2 linked regions of the Homo sapiens genome follow. The protein of the gene in region 1 purifies or fractionates together with the protein of each later gene. This does not show direct contact. Each region holds a gene or a part of one and is shown in the gene's direction. Other genes may lie near its edges.

The links. The genes of interacting proteins can lie anywhere in the genome.
Region 2: the proteins of FAM162A (region 1) and HACL1 fractionate together in Homo sapiens (co-fractionation; one large-scale study listed by BioGRID). This does not show direct contact.

The regions. Positions count from the first base shown.
Region 1 is NC_000003.12:122,408,141-122,410,628, forward strand, and holds part of FAM162A (protein FAM162A), read left to right. Parts: intron 1-1,598; coding exon 1,599-1,691; 3' UTR 1,692-2,488. UniProt on the Homo sapiens protein: Proposed to be involved in regulation of apoptosis; the exact mechanism may differ between cell types/tissues.
Region 2 is NC_000003.12:15,591,510-15,595,171, reverse strand, and holds part of HACL1 (2-hydroxyacyl-CoA lyase 1), read left to right. Parts: intron 1-3,491; coding exon 3,492-3,572; intron 3,573-3,662. UniProt on the Homo sapiens protein: Peroxisomal 2-OH acyl-CoA lyase involved in the cleavage (C1 removal) reaction in the fatty acid alpha-oxydation in a thiamine pyrophosphate (TPP)-dependent manner.

The DNA.
Region 1 (2,488 bases):
TGCTTATTATGTAACAGGCACTGTTAAGCTCACTTAATCACCCCCATAACCCTAAGAGGTAAATAGTTTTCCCAAACTCACACAGCTAACAAGTGGCAAGATAAAAATCTAGACCCAAGTTTGCAGGTTACCAAACCTCATACTATACTATCTTGCTATTAAGCCATAGTTATTTTTATATTCAGCAGCTTTGGTCAAATTCTTCTTTTAATACCATGTATAATTCTATATATCACAGCTTCCATGTGGAAAGTGATGTCTTACAACTACTTTAAGATACTAAAAAGGTCCTTCTATACACGCACTCTTAACTGACTTTCTTATCCTCAGTAATTCCAGAGTAAAAGGAAATGTACTTTTGGCTGTCTTCATTCTTGCAGTTAAATGGAAATACTGACCATTTTAGGCTGACCTCATGGGAGTACGAAGGGGCAAATGTGCTGAGCTGGGTGAAGTTCTCTTGAAAACTCTGTTCCCACCCCACTTCATTTTTTCTTGTCTCCCTCTTTGACCTCTCATGCATAGTTCTCAGATTAAAACCAGCAGAAACATGTGGACAGGACTGTGAGCTTCTAGGATTCTGAGAAATTTGCATTGCTTTTGTATACTCGATTGTACTAGCTGAGTTTAAATACTCCAGAAGCAAATTATTCACCTGGAATCTCTTCTAGCATCATCCAGGGGTATATGCTGTGTATTTTAGAGAGTTCTTCTCCTGTTCTTTACCATAAAATTGTAACATTTTAGTTTTATGGAATTTCTGTTTCCATAAATACTACTGGAATGGAGAACTTTTGAACTCAATGTGATTTGGAAGAGAAAAATTAGCCATTGTATATTTTGCTCTCACCATCAACTTCCCTTTCTCCCCCCGCTCCCCCACCCCCCGCCACATACCCAATTCTTTTACATATGAAATTACACAGATAGAAGGAAATATCAGCTTAGGGTGCTAGTTTCACTATTTGGTATAAAAGTGTTGAAACTGGCCTGTATGTAAGCTTCATAGAAATCTGACCGTTTACATGGAGGGAAACAAGGGAAGAGGACGGTTGCCTCCCCCACTCAAAGGTTGGAATTGTAGTACAGATACTCGTGGAAATCATCAATGGTAGTATTTGGGTAAAGTCTGGGATTCCCAAAGCTGAATGTTTTTGGTAAAAGAGAAGTGAGGAACTAGAAGGATCTGAGTATGCAGATAAGTTGGGGAAGGAGAAATGGCAGCAACAGAGAAAAGTGAAAGAAGAAAAACGGGATAGAAATGGCAATGAGAAGGTATTTAGTATAAAAGAGAAGTGGGGTGGAATGAGAAGAAAGTATAAGAGAAAAGGAGAGGATAAAGACTGAAAGAAAGGGGCCAGAAGGGAAGAAAAAGGAGAGGTGTGGCACTTCTTACTTATGCTTGAGTGGATGAGCTGCTGTTCTTGGAAGCGTACGAGGAAGTTGAAGCACATAGAGGAAACTGCCGTGCTCAGTGTGCAAGCAGCAGAGGACTCCATGCCTCCATGCCTCTGTTAACCTGCTGTCATCAGTGCAAGGTAAAGACACCCTCCCCTGACCAGCATACAAATCACCTGTTCAAATCTGTTTTGCTTTAGGCTGCCCAAAGACACGAGACTTTAACAAGCTTGAACTTAGAAAAGAAAGCTCGTCTGAAAGAGGAAGCAGCTATGAAGGCCAAAACAGAGTAGCAGAGGTATCCGTGTTGGCTGGATTTTGAAAATCCAGGAATTATGTTATAACGTGCCTGTATTAAAAAGGATGTGGTATGAGGATCCATTTCATAAAGTATGATTTGCCCAAACCTGTACCATTTCCGTATTTCTGCTGTAGAAGTAGAAATAAATTTTCTTAAATAATGACTGTGTTTTATTGTTTTGATCCAAGTCAAGTGTAGCCTCTCAGCCTTTTGGAGAAAAATGAAACAATTTATTTCAACTTGAATACCAACTCTTCAGAGAAGCAGGTACCATATCTTACTTCTCTTCCCATTATCAAAGTAACCTCTCCACAGGCGAACTCATTTTGAGGAGATAAGGAAGGCCAGTTGAGTATATGGCCCAGGTGCAGCTTGGAGGGCCAGCCTTCTCAAATGTCCTGGTGTACTGGTGGGGAGGCTGCCCCCTAATAGAGCGAGCGCTGAGAAGCAGCCAGACCACATTCTATAATCTTTGAACATGCTGGCAGATGGAGGCTTTTAGGAGAATAGTTTTTTAAACATTCTGACAAGGTCCAGCCAGGAATTTCTAAGGACTTAGAAATCCCAGCGTCATGGAGTTGCTTGGGGTCAACACAAGTCACCTCTTAGCTTCATGCCTTAGAATTCTCAACTGGCTGTTTTCTTACCACCTGAGAAACTAAATTTCTCAATTATAAAAATCTCATGTATTATTACTGTTAGAAGTATTTGCACCTCATATATATCTCATTTACAGTTTGACCTTGGGATATCGAGTTGTCTCATATTTAGGTATGAATACAGGTTTCT
Region 2 (3,662 bases), about 110 Mb from region 1:
AATGATTAAGAGAATGGTTAAAAGTTCATACTTTTTTTTTTTTGAGATGGAGTCTTGCACTGTTATCTGGGCTGGACAGTGCAGTGGTGCAATCTCGGCTCAGTGGAACCTCTGCCTCCTGGGTTCAAGCGATCCTCATGCCTCAGCTTCCCCAGTAGCTGGGATTACAGGCATGCACCACCACACCCAGCTAATTTTTGTATTTTAGTAGAGATGGGGTTTCACTATGTTGGCCAGGATGGTCTCTGTCTCTTGACCTCATGATCTGCTGGCCTTGGCCTCCCAAAGGGCTGGGATTACAGGCGTGAGCCACCATGCCCGGCCGAAAAGTTCATATTTAAAACATTTTTGCTGTTTGAATGAACTTCTGGAGCTGCACTGGCAAGTATAGTAGCCACGAGCCGTATGACTTGTTTACATTTAAATTAATTAAAATTAAATAACATTTAAATCATAGTTTATCAGTTTGTAGTAGCCACATTTCAAGTGCTCAGTAACCATGTCAGTAGTGGCTACCGTATCATACTGCAAATGCAGAACATTTCTATTACTATACAAAGTTCTGTTGGATAGTACTGTTCTAGAAGTTTAGTTTACTTGGTGGTAATTACTTATTTTCAAGTCTGTCTTAAACAGAAATTTTTAAGAAATTATTTTATAAGTGTAAAATGGTGAACTGAATTATATTGAGATACCTTTTTCCCGAGTGGTTTAAGCTTAGAAAGTCACACTGAAGGGTAAAACATTCAAGTTCAATATTTATTTATTTGGAGTCTCACTCTGTCGTCTCCATGCTGGAGTGCAGTGGCACCATCTCGGCTCACTGCAAACTCCACCTCCCAGGTTCCAGCGATTCTCCTGCCTCAGCCTCCCAAGTAGCTGGCACTACAGGTGTGCACCACCATACTCAGCTAGTTTTTATATTTTTTAGAGACAGGGTTTCATCATGTTGCCCAGGCTGGTCTTGAACTCCTAGACTCAAGTGATCCATCTGCCTCAGCCTCTCAAGATGCTGGGATTACAGACGTCAGCCACCGTGCTCAGCCTCAAATTCAGTTTTAAAAGATTTTGGGGACCAGGCGCGGTGGCTCATGCCTGTAATCCCAGCACTTTGGGAGGCCGAGGCGGGTGGATCACCTGAGGCCAGGAGTTGGAGACAAGCCTGGCCAAACATGGTGAAACCCCGTCTCTACTAAAAATACAAAAATTAGCCGGGTGTGGTGGCACATGCCTGTAATCCCAGCTACTTGGGAGGCTGAGGCAGGAGAATCACTTGAATCCGGGAGGCGGAGGTTGCAGTGAGCCGAGATCACACCATTGCACTGCAGCCTGGGGAACAAGAACGAGACTTCGTCTCAAAAAAAAAAAAAAAAAAGACAAAAAAAAAAACACAAAACATTTTGGGCAGAGCACTGCATTCAGAATTACTTTCCTATCAAAGATCAGTCGACGTTATATTTATTTGTTAAGAAATGAAAAAAAAACCTTTTTTCATACAAAAATGAACTCAGCAGTCAAAAATTTGCTTCTGTATACCATTAACTTGATTTAGTCCAGATGTAGTCCAGATCAAAATAAGTGGTTAGAGACATAAGGTGTGAAAATGATAGGTACCTTATTTCTCACAAGAAATCCGATATCTTTCTTTTTTTGGGCCAGGCATGCTGGCTTATGCCTGTAATCCCAGCACTTTGGGAGGCCAAGGCAGGCAGATTGCTTGAGCCCAGGAGTTCAAGACCAGCCTGGGCAACATGGTGAAACCCCATCTCTACCAAAAAAAAATACAAAAAATTAGCCGGGTGTGGTGGCATCTGCCTGTAGTCCCGGTTACTTGGGAGGCTGTGGTGGGAAGATCACCTGAGCTTAGGAGGTTGAGGCTGCAGTGAGCCCTGATCATGCCACTGCACTCCAGCCTGAGCAACAGAGTGAGATGCTATCTCAAAAAAAAAGTGTGTATATATATACACACACGCACATATATATGTGTGTATATATACACACATATATACGTATGTGTGTATGTGTGTATATATACATATATACGTATGTGTGTGTATATATACACACACATATATGTATATGTGTGTGTATATATACACTTTTTTTGAGATAGCATCTCACTCTTGCCCAGAGTATATATGTACATATGCGTACATGTGTATACACGCACACATGTGCGTACATGTGTATACACGCACACATGTGCGTACATGTGTATACACGCACACATGTGCGTACATGTGTATACACGCACACATGTGCGTACATGTGTATACACGCACACATGTGCGTACATGTGTATACACGCACACATGTGCGTACATGTGTATACACGCACACATGTGCGTACATGTGTATACACGCACACATGTGCGTACATGTGTATACACGCACACATGTGCGTACATGTGTATACACGCACACATGTGCGTACATGTGTATACACGCACACATGTGCGTACATGTGTATACACGCACACATGTGCGTACATGTGTATACACGCACACATGTGCGTACATGTGTATACACGCACACATGTGCGTACATGTGTATACACGCACACATGTGCGTACATGTGTATACACGCACACATGTGCGTACATGTGTATACACGCACACATGTGCGTACATGTGTATACATGTGTATATGTATACAAGTGTATATACAAGTGTATATGTATACAAGTGTATGTATACGTGTGTGTATGTATACGTGTGTGTATGTATACGTGTGTCTACATGCATACGTGTGTGTATACGTGTGTCTACATGTATACACGTGTGTGTATACGTGTGTCTGTATGTATACATATATATAGAGTATACTCTGGTGCCCAGAGTATATATACATATATGTATACATATATATACGTATGTATACATATACACGTATGTATACGTATATATGGATCCATATATACACGTATGTATACGTATATACGTATGTATACATATATACACGCATGTATACATATATACGTATGTATACATATATACATGCATGTATACGTATATACGTATGTATACATATATACACGTATGTATACGTATATAGTGTGTATATATACGTATATAGTGTGTGTATATATACGTATACGTATATACGTATATATACGTATATAGTGTGTGTATATATACGTATGTAGTGTGTGTATATATACGTATATAGTATATACTATAGGTATATAGTGTGTATATATATACACTATGTATATAGTGTGTGTATATATACACGTATATACGTATATATACACTATATACATATATAGTGTATACACTATATACGTATATGTGTGTATGTATATATATCGCGATATATATATATCGCCTTGTTTTTTAATTAAAAATATTCTAATAATTGTTTTATCAGTTATAGTAAAGACTTGTATGTCCTTCCTTTGAAGTCCAAGATTGCCATGTTTCACACTAAAGTGTTATGAATCAGTTGTTACATTTGACCTGATTTTAATAAATTCTGTTTTGCTTTTAGGCCAGGAGTCTGCCTTGTTGTTTCTGGCCCAGGTCTCATCCATGCCTTGGGCGGTATGGCAAATGCAAACATGAACTGCTGGTAATGACATTATTATTACTGAAAACATTTTCTTAAAAAGGTCACTGCAGGATTTTACTGAGTAGAGCTAATGCTGATCTAGGGTAGAAA